4 separate regions of the Homo sapiens genome follow, and all the other regions are linked to region 3. Evidence: fine-mapped QTL for protein levels in blood plasma. A gene starts in region 3. Each other region holds a variant in brackets. All regions are shown on one strand. Distances are from middle to middle.

Region 1 (2,500 bases), 86 kb after region 3:
TAACTGAATTCTAGTTTTTATTCATTATAAAAGTTCTGTAGGCTGGGCGTGGTGGCTCATGCTTGTAGTCCCAGCACTTTGGGAGCCCGAGGCAGGCAGATCATTTGAGATCAGGAGTTTGATACCAGCCTGGCCAACATGATGAAACCTTGTCTGTACTAAAAATACAAAAAAATTAGCTGGGCGTGGTGGCACGTGCCTGTAATCCCAGCTATTTGGGTGGCTGAGGCAGGAGAATTGCTTGAACCCAGGAGACGGAGATTGCAGTGAGCCGAGATCACACCACTGCACTCTGGCCTGGGCAACAGAGCAAGACTCCGTCTCAAAAAAAAAAAAGTTCTGTAACTATAATCATTAATAAGACCTTTAGGGTTTCCAATAAAACTATACTAATATTAAAACAATACAGAATCTGGCAACTGATCTGCTGAAAATCTCTTTGTCCTTTATTGGGGAAGGGCAAAGGAAAAAGGTCTAAATTAAGTAGAAGCCAAATCTCTTCTGCAAAATCATGTGATAACTGGATGGGAAGGTCACAGCAGTGTAGAGTGAGTTACATATAAAAGATTGACAGAAACACACTATGGTTATGAAGATATGAACCAAAGAAAACATAAGGTAAAACAAAGCCTTTCTATTCTAAAAAGGTATTACTGGCCGGCCGAGGTGGCTCACACCTGTAATCCCAGCACTTTGGGAGGCTGAGGTGGGCGGATTACCTGAGGTCAGGAGCTCGAGACCAGCCTGACCAACATGGAGAAACCCTGCCTCTACTAAAAATACAAAATTAGCCAGGCGTGGTGGCACATGCCTGTAATCCCAGCTACTCGGGAGGCTGAGGCAGGAGAATCACTTGAACCCGGGAGGCAGAGGTTGCAATAAACCGAGATCACGCCACTGCACTCCAGCCTGGGCAACAGGGGCAAAACTCCATCTCAAAAAAAAAAAGGGGTATTGCTTCCAAAAAGCTGGAGGAGTGAAGGAAGGAAAACATAAATCACACAAAAATAACAAGAAATCTCCTGGGTGAAAGAGATCCTCAACCTATGTTTCTGAATTATTAATGCCAGCAGAAGGTAGCCTCGGGAAAGGTATTTATGATAACTCCCATGCTAACCCTTGCAAATGTTGAGGATAAGCCCCCAAATAACCATATCTTTTTTTATCCTCTTATTTTTCTAATTAGTTTATGTTGCCTTTGGAGTAAAAAGTTATATATCAGCTGACATTTACTTCAGCACTCAATTTTGTGTAAAATCTACTTTGTAGATTCCCAAGTTGCTTTGCTATAGAATTCTTAAGACTGTGGTCACCTATCAATACCATTCACAATTTTACAAAATGTGATCCTTCTAAGAGCCTTCAGTCTTCAAATATTAAAACAAAAAGACAAAACTGGTTTTCTTCTCTCCTCAGTAACAGCCATTCCCCCACAATCATTTCAGTTGCCCCTCCCTATATGCTCC[T/C]AGTTCCATAATGTCTGCCTTGGCTTTATCCATGACCAGTAAAAATTTCCCCAGCACATTCTATGTTCTGACATAAGCACAAATGGGCTTTTCTCATTCTTTCCTAATGGTATTTATTGGTCTTTAGAGCTACAGCAGTCATTTTGGGCCCATGTCTTCAGGCAACAGTATCAATGAGTCTTGTTTCTCTTTAGGATAGCATGACAAAGAACAAGAGGCAAAATTAAGCATGTGATGAAGTAAAATGCTAATGTAACGAAATGCTTGTTACTAAATAATAGAGCTTCTTCTAAGCATACCACGTTTGGAATAAGGGCTCTCAAAAATGTATGATTTCTTATAAAAGAAAAGATTTCTGGCCAGGTGTAGTGGCTCACATCTGCAATTCCAGCACTCTGGGAGGCTGAGGTGGGTAGACAGCTTGAGCTCAGGAGTTTGAGATGAGCCTGAGCAACATGGTGAAACCCAATCTCTACCAAAAATACAAAAATTAGCTGGGCATAGTGGTATGTGCCTATAGTCCCAGCTACTTGGGAGGCTGAGATGGGAGGATGGCTTAAGCCTGGGAGGTGGAGGTTGCAGTTAGCCAGGATCACACCACTGCACTCCAGCCTGGGCAACAGAGTGAGACCGCCATCTCAAAAAAAACAAAAAACAAAAAAGGCCAGGTGCAGTGGCTCACGCCTGTAATCCTAGCTGAGGCAGGCAGATTGCTGGAGCTCAGGAGTTCCAGATCAGCCTGGACAACATGGCGAAACCCGTCTCTACAAAAAAAAATACACAAATTAGCTGGGCATGGTGGCACACGCCTGTAGGCCCAGCCACTTGGGGGATTGAGGCGGGAGGATCACTTCAGCCTGGGAGGTCAAGGATGCAGTGAACCAAGATCATGCCACTGTACTCCAGCCTAGAAGACTGAGACCCCGTCTCAAAAAATAATAATAATTAATAATTAATTTAAAAAATAAGCAAACTTGGGACAATCCCACAAAGGATTAATTCACTTACTATATAAAAGGCTTCAAATCATTAAG
Region 2 (2,500 bases), 13 kb after region 3:
TGGCACAATGGGCTGAGACCTGCTCTCTCCTGGGGTCTCTCTGGACGCTCTGCCTGCAGCTGGACACACTGATCGTGGCAGGATGGGAGCACTGTCTTCCGCAGAACGGAAAGGCCTGCGACACTGTCATATTGTCCATCCCTCTTTGGAAGCTCACCACCTCGGGCTGGAGACTGTGTCTTCCCACAGCTTCTAGGGGCTGGAATCCTCACCCTGAGCCTGTTCTACCCAACAGTCCTTTGCTCCGACACTTTCCCCATCAAAGCACGACTATCCCATGACCTGTCCCGTCATTTGTCTCCAGATAAGCTAGGCCGGCTGAGGTGAAGCGAGCAGCAGAGCTGGGGGCAGATGCACAATCTCCTTAGCTTCCGTCATGCATGGCCCTTCGCACTTCTTCCCTGGCACCCCCAGCTTTTTCTACCATTCTCCCCACAATCAGCGCTCCCAGTATGCCAGCCCCCACACCCCTTATCCCTTCATCCCTATTCTCCCTGCCTGGAATGACTTCCTCCCACCTGGGGAAGCTTGTTCTTTAGTGCCCAATCCAAATGCCACCTCCTTTGTGCAGCCTTCCCTGACCACCCTCTTTTCCACTGCCCAGAGAACTAATAGCTCGTGTCTGAGTGCTACATGCCAGGCACTAGGAGCTTTGCATGTGTTTTCTCATATCAAAGCCCACAGCAACTCCGTGAAGTAGAATAATCATTAGCTCCATGTAGCTGCTCAATTCATGTTGCTCGCCGATTAGCTGGTGAAACCAGGATCAGCATTCCACTTCTGCACTGTGACCTTGGGCAAGGCATATACCTCTCTGAGTTTTCATTTCTTTCTCTGACCAAAAAAAAAAAAAAAAAAGTAGGGGAATAATAATATGCCTGACATCCCAGTTTTATTGTGAGGATCAAATTGAATATAATGATGTCATAAGGAAGTACTCTAAGTGGTGGGACACTAACCATACAAACGTTAGCAGTTGGTATTCAGAGGAAAATGTGTCACCTGGCTCACAGGTAAAACATTTTATCCCTAACAAGGGCCTTACAGTTAATGATGCCTTCATTTAAAGCAATATGCAGGTCGGGCACAGTGGCTCACGTCTGTAATTCCAGTGCTTTGGGAGGCTGAGGTGGGCAGATCACTTGAGGTCAGGAGTTCAAGACTAGCATGGCCAACATGGTGAAACCCTGTCTCTACTAAAAATAAAAAAATTAGCTGGGTGTGGTGGTGCACACCTGTAATCCCAGCTACTCAAGAGGTTGAGGCAGGAGAATCGCTTGAACCCGGGAGGCAGAGGTTGCAGTGAGCCAAGATCACGCCACTGCACTCCAGGCTGGGCGACAGAGTGAGTGAGGCTCCGTCTCAAAAGAAAGAAATAAAGGAATGTGCAATACCAGAAGATCATCAGCCTTTGGGTCAGGTAAGTGGGAAGTATCTGAGGCCAGGGCAGAGTTCAGTCACCCCCACAGGAGGCTTTTGTACCCACCCTTGTTCATGGCCCAGAAGCTG[C/T]TGTCCTCCCAAGATCCCTGGGGCTGAGTCATATTCCTTTCCCCTTCCAGCATCTATCTTCTCCCCAGGGTTTGGGCCTCACAGCTCATGTCCTGGAGAGCACAGTGCGCCCTCTGGCAGGCTTGGATGGGTGGGGTTGGATCAACAGCAGGAGGGCCAACTTCACTGTCATGAATCACTTCCAAACCCCCATCCCATGCTAGTCTGTACTTGACAATTTGGCCTCACAGCAACTCTGTGATGTATTAAAACTCCACTTTAGGGTCCAGGAAACCAAGGGTAGAGAAGCAGAGGTGTTGCTCAAAATCACAACTGCTGGGTCTGAACCCAACTCTATCAGATCCCAAATTCCCTTCTCTTTTTCATGCTCTCTCTCCTTTCTCTGGGCAAGTTCAGGGAGATTCACATCCAAGATCCACCCAGCACACACTTCTTGAGCTCAGCATCAGCTCAGTCCCTGAAGGATCTCAGACTTCAGGCAAGTATCATATTTCCTTGATTCTAGGATCATTCTTCTGTGTGTGTGTGTGTGTGTGTGTGTGTGTGTGTGTGTGTGTGTGTGTGTGGGTGGGTATTTGGTTTGGTTTTTTGTTTTTTGAGACAGGGCCTGGCTCTGTCACTTAGGCTGGAGTGCAGTGGTGCAATCACAGCTCACTGCAGCCTCAACCTCCTGGGCTCAAGTGATCCTCCTGCCTCAGCCTCCCAAGAAGCTAGGACAATAGGCATGTACCACCATCCCTGGCTTTCATTTTTTTTTGAGACAGAGTCTTGCTTAGTCGCCCAGGCTGGAGTGCAGTGGCGCCATCTCAGCTCACTGCAAGCTCCGCCTCCCGGGTTCACGCCATTCTCCTGCCTCAGCCTCCTTAGTAGCTGGGACTACAGGCACCTGCCACCACGCCCGGCTAATTTTTTGTATTTTTAGTAGAGATGGGGTTTCACCATGTTAGCCAGGATGGTCTCCATCTCCTGACCTCATGATCCACCCGCCTTG
Region 3 (2,723 bases):
GTCCGAGGAGTTCCCGGCACTTTCCCACCCGCTGTTTGGTTTTCCTGGAGATGGGCCTGGGGCTGGCCAGGCGGAGGCTCCTTCCCCCCGCCTCCCTCCCACGTGGCCTGGCTGAGTCTCTCTGGAAAGCCGCAGCAGCTGGAGAGAAATCCCCCTCCCCACCCCCACCTCCAAGTCCCTCCCCGACTCTCCCCGGACACATCCTCAGCTCCCCCCTCCGCGGGGAAGGCAAGAACTAGGCGAACAAAGCGGCCAGCCCATCCCCCTCCCAGCCCTGCCACCTACACTCCCCATGAGCCGCCCCCAAACGCACACCGGACAGGAAGCGACAGAGCTGTGGGTGGAAGCCGCAGCCCTAGACACACACCCTTGGGGACTTCGCTATCCCCTCCCCAGCCCTTTCTCCAGCTTGGACAACTCTGACTTACCCCGTACCCACTCCGCACTGGGCTGCGGACTGGATGAGGCCCTGCTGACCTCGTCCACGCTTCCCTGGTCGGTCCCTGGGGGGTGGGGCCGGGGTGACACGCGTCCCATCGTGAGAACAAGCGCTGGACATGTCCACGAAAGCAAATGGTTTCCTGCCCCCTCCCCCAGTCCACTGCTGGCCACAGGTTTTGGGGAGCAACACCTCCCTCTACCCCTCTCTAACCGGCCCCAGGGACCACACCCACTGGGCAAAGTTGAGTGTTGTTTTATCACCACCACCCCCAGTCAAACGGGATCCATCGCTCTGTCCCCCACTATGGGCAAGGACACTTCCCAAATGCCAAGGCCAAATATTAGCTCAGCCCCATAAACACAATTGCACACGCACCCGACCCAAATGGAGGTGCAGACACAACCCCAGTTCCCTCCTCTTTTACACACACTCTCAACCCAAGACACGCGCAGGCAAGGCAGAGCCCGCCCCGCGAAAGCCACCGACACCGCAGCTACCCGCCCCGCCGATGCCACGCCGCGACCATGGCACGCACTGCGGACACGACAGGAGCACTCCCAACACACACACACACACACACACACACACACACACACACGACTCCAGACTCTGCGAACCAAAGGCACACACCCACTGCGGACAAGCACGCCCCACAAACGCCCCCCGGCCGCAGCTCGCAGACCCCCGCGCAGGCATCGCGGGCACCTGGACGCGCAGCCCCCGCACTTGCTCGGGACTCCGGCTTGAGCCAGCCCCGCAGCCCGATGCAGACCAGGGCGCGGGCGCACCAGCACTCCGCAGTCGCTCCTGCCTCTCCGGGCGCCCGCCCTTACCGCGCGCGGCCAACAGGCAGAAGGTCAACGCGAGGAGCCCGCGGCCGCGGCCGGCGTCCCCCCGCGCCATGGGGCTGGGCTCGGGCCGCCGCCGCCGCCGCCGCCTCCCCGTGCTTCGGCCGCCGCCGCGGGGGGAGAGCGCGCCGGGCGTCAGTGGCCCGGGGAGGCGCGGCGCCGCGGGCGGGGGCGCGGCCTCGGGGGCCCGGGCCCGAGCTGGGGCCGGCGCGGGGGCCAGGGCCGCTGCCGCCTCACCCGCCCCTCCATCGCCATCTTGGGCGAGCGGCCCGGGAGGGGGCGCCCGGCGAGTGTGGCCACCCTGGCCCCGCCGGGGACCCTGCGCCCGCGCGCCACGGCCCTGCGCCTCGCGGGGGCTCCTCTCGGCCCGGGTCTGTGTCCCGGTGCCTCGCCCTCTCCGGGTCGCCGCGGGCCCCCGTGAGGCCGCCTGTTGCTGGGTCTGTCTCTTAGTCTCCCCGTCTCTGAGTCTTCTGGTCTCTCTGCCTCAGCGTCTCTATTTCTTCTCCCTGTTGCTGCCTCGGGGTCTCCACCTCCGTTCCAGGCTCAGGGGAGGCAGATTCAGGGCCACGGTCTTTGTCCAGATGGCCCCCTTGCCACCCGAGCCCAGTCCATTCCAGCCCAGGTCCTGGCCTGAATGCTGGTTCGCTTCTCCACACGTTGCGCCAGCCCACCTGCGGAGATCTTGATAGTCCTATCTGCCATCCCAAACCAAGGGCTTCTCTTGGCCTCCTTCCCTTGCTCTGGCAGTAACTAACACAGGCAGGACACTTTTACACTACCTTCAAGCACTACCATATTCAGATGTCGCCGCATGGGGAAACTGAGGCTGGAGAAGGTGAAGTGACTTGCCCAAGGACAGGAGGCTAGGGAGCAGCAGATACAGGACCTGAACCTTGGTTTTCTGACTTCGGAAGGTCATCTCCACTCCCTCACCCTGCCTCTGCTGTCCAGCATTTACTGAAGTACCCTTTTTCTCATTCTTCAACGGTACTTTCTCTAACCTACCTAGCCAGACTGTTTGCCTCAGTATCCCGCAAATATTTCTTGTTCTACAGCCAAGGGTTCAATTGTCAGGCTAGGGTGGGGAAAAGAGTACAGATTCAATGACCTAGTTAAGGTCCTTTCCAACTCCAAGATGCCATAGTTCTTCCCTTCCCTGTGTCTCTAAGTGTTCCTGTGACTTAGAGCCATCTTGTCTCTACACCTGTCTGTTGTCAGTTAACCCTCAATAATCACTGGCGCTTTGCATATCTAACAGGCCTGGCGTTTATTCATTCATTGCCACGCCCCATCTTCACTTGCCCTATCAGCAGCATTTGACTTAGTGAATCACTCCCTCTTCCTTGAAACACTTGCTTCCCTTAGTGATCTCATCTGGTCCTCAAGGCTTTAAAGAGCATCTTTATGCTAATGATGCCCAAATGTATACTTTC
Region 4 (2,500 bases), 12 kb before region 3:
TACGGCTTGGGATAAGCCACAGCTCCTCTCTGGCCTTCAGTCTCCACAATAAAGCAAGTGGTTGGACTAGATGTGCTGGGAAGGACTCTACTACTACACCTACCCAGGCTCCACAGCTCAATGGGTGGCTTCCTCCCAGGGAGCAAAAACTTCTTGTCCAACTTCTCTTTGGGACTAGACATGAGCCAGGAGTCAGGCGGTGGTTAACACTCAAGTCAGCTTAGGTAAATGCAGCTACCTCGACTCTAAGAATCTCAGTTCTGAGCACACCCCAGAGCCCTCTCTGCCCTGCCTACCAGGACCCGCTCCCCTACAGGGCACTCACCGAGGCTCCTCAGGCAATGTCACCTGGTCCTTCTCCCAAGTAATGATGGGAGCTGGCAGCCCTTCAATGTGGCACTCAAAGCGAGCTGTCCCGTTCTCCTCCACCGTCTGAGACTCCGGGTGCAGAGAGAAGTCTGCGAGTGCTGGGGACAGTGAGACACAGGCAGGGACGGGAAAAGAATAGGAGAGAGAAGCCACAGCAAGCACAAACAGTGAAACACATCCGCATGGAGACACAGAAACACACAGTCACAGAAACACACAGCAGAGCCAATTCAGACCGAGGGAGACACAACAAGAAGTGGTGATTAGCGGTCAGATACTGCCAGCAGAATGAATTCCAAAGCCCCCCTGCCCAACATCATCATGATGGTCAAACTATACAGTAAGATGCACACTTCTTCTGGCCTGAAAGTTACTTCATGGTGATCTGTGCCTCCTGAGAGCCCCCTAAGGGGTAAGGCTGGAGCGTGGGGTTTGGCTCCACATGTTCCACCTGCCGTGCAGGCAGGAGCTCCCTTAGGAGGCAGCTTTGTGCCTCTGACACAAAGGGGGCACTCTGGCAGGCTCCCTGGAGGACAGCACAAGCCCAGACTCTAGGACTCAAAGGGAAAGAAAAGCAGAAGGAACAGGGGAGTGGAGAAGAAGCGGGAAGATTATGGAATACCCAAGAATGAGGATAGACAATACCAGGAAGAGACCTATTGAGCAGGATGGGAGGCAGGGAAAGGGGGAGTGGGATCAAGAGAGAGGCATTTGTGCAAGTAACTAACTGCAGATCCCACTTCGCACACCCCAAGTCTGGGTTTCAGCCTCAGACCCCCGCCCGATGCAAGCACTTACTGGCAAGCTTGACGACAGCAGTCTGGCTGGCCAGCACTCCGAGGGGGCCGTGGGCTAGGCACGAATAGTTGCCTTCAATGACCCCCACAGCCTCAGGGACTGACTCGTCACTGCCATTGGGTGCTAGTGGCTGGGACAGCCACAGGGAACCATTGGGCAGCAGGTGTAAGTGGTCGTGCTCCAGCAGGGTGTCCCCATCCTTGCTCCAGGTCACCCTGGTGGGGGGTCCAGCGGCAGCAGCCCCCAGGCTACAGTTTAGCACTGCAG[C/G]CTGCTCTGGGCCCAGGATCACTTGCAGTGGCCCCACTCCACAGCTCAGCTCCACAGTCGTCTCCTGGGGCAACAGCAGCTCCCCTGCATAGAGGAGGAGCACGGGGCCATCAGTGTATGTCCCCCCACCTCCCACAGCCTCTGCTCCTGAGTCACCCATGCAGGGGCTGGGGCAAATCAAGGAGAAACACCTGCATCTGGATCCTGGCTCTCCCCTTACTAACTGTGACCTTGGACAAACTGCTGCATTCCTCTGTGCCTGTCTTCCCCTGCTGCTCAATTTCCTCATAGCAGCATTATTCATAATAGCCAATGAGTGGAAACAACCCAAAAGCCCATCACCTGATGAATGGATAGATTACTCAGCCATCAAAAAGAATGAAGGACTGATGCATGCTACAAGGTAGCAAGAAAACTTGACGCTAAGTGAAGGAAGCCAATCATAAGATGCCACATTTTGCATGATCTCATTTCTACGAAATGCCCAGAGGAGGCAAATCCATAAAGACAGAAAGTGGATTAATGATTGTCAGTGACTGGGAGGAGGAAGGACAGAGAGTGACTGCTAATGAGTACAGGGTTTCTTTTGGGGGTGATGAAAATGTTCTAGAATTAGATAGTGGCTGTGGTTGCACAACGTTGTGAATATGAATATACTAAAAACCACTGAGTTGAACACTGTAAAGGGTGAATTTTGTAGTACGTGAATTGTCTCTCAATTAAAAAAGCATACCAGCCTGGGTAACACAGAGAGACTCCGTCTCTACAGATAATTTAAAAAGTTAGCTGTACATGGTGGCACAGGCCTGTGGTCCCAGCTACTCAGGAGGCTGAAGCAAGGAGGATCGCCTGAGCCTAGAAGTTCCAGGCTACAGTGAGCCACGATCACGACACTGCACTCCAGCCTGGCTGGCAGAACGAGACTCTGTGAGAAAAGAATATAGTGGCTGGGTGCAGTGGCTCACACCTGTAATCCCAGCACTTTGGGAGGCCGAGGCAGGTGGATCATGATGTCAGGAGTTCAAGACCAGCCTGACCAACATGGTGAAACCCCGTCTCTACTAAA

Which allele goes with the higher level. Positions count from the first base shown, and alleles are read on the strand shown. Strength reflects both the effect of a copy and how common the allele is.
As copies of C replace T in region 1, the plasma level of the protein whose gene starts at base 1,430 in region 3 goes up (strong association).
With allele C in place of T in region 2, the plasma level of the protein whose gene starts at base 1,430 in region 3 is lower (moderate association).
As copies of C replace G in region 4, the plasma level of the protein whose gene starts at base 1,430 in region 3 goes up (moderate association).

What was found. PIP is the posterior inclusion probability: the model's chance that the variant is causal. The UK Biobank Pharma Proteomics Project read protein levels with antibody pairs (Olink). The fine-mapping took linkage between variants from a reference panel, not from the people measured, so its PIPs are less certain.
Region 1: its variant is fine-mapped to the plasma level of the IGDCC4 protein (UK Biobank, PIP 0.97).
Region 2: its variant is fine-mapped to the plasma level of the IGDCC4 protein (UK Biobank, PIP above 0.99).
Region 4: its variant is fine-mapped to the plasma level of the IGDCC4 protein (UK Biobank, PIP above 0.99). The variant lies in the coding sequence of IGDCC4. If it changes the protein, the assay may bind it differently, which can mimic a change of level.

What each region holds. Positions count from the first base shown.
Region 1 is chr15:65,507,916-65,510,415 of GRCh38, forward strand. The region is part of intron 2 of DPP8 (dipeptidyl peptidase 8); the gene reads right to left. Among named protein-coding and RNA genes, the nearest start is that of DPP8, 8.5 kb to the right of the region's middle. The variant T/C (reference allele first, on the strand shown) is at 1,467.
Region 2 is chr15:65,434,281-65,436,780 of GRCh38, forward strand. No RefSeq gene overlaps it. Among named protein-coding and RNA genes, the nearest start is that of IGDCC4, 13 kb to the left of the region's middle. The variant C/T (reference allele first, on the strand shown) is at 1,510.
Region 3 is chr15:65,421,518-65,424,240 of GRCh38, forward strand. IGDCC4 (immunoglobulin superfamily DCC subclass member 4) reads right to left here and starts at 1,430. Exons shown (of 20, transcript NM_020962.3): 1 at 1,276-1,430. The coding sequence starts at 1,345. RefSeq lists enhancers at 333-442, 463-732, 1,708-2,242.
Region 4 is chr15:65,409,853-65,412,352 of GRCh38, forward strand. IGDCC4 (immunoglobulin superfamily DCC subclass member 4) reads right to left here. Exons shown (of 20, transcript NM_020962.3): 2 at 1,168-1,518; 3 at 326-467. Among named protein-coding and RNA genes, the nearest start is that of IGDCC4, 12 kb to the right of the region's middle. RefSeq lists an enhancer at 747-1,404. The variant C/G (reference allele first, on the strand shown) is at 1,435.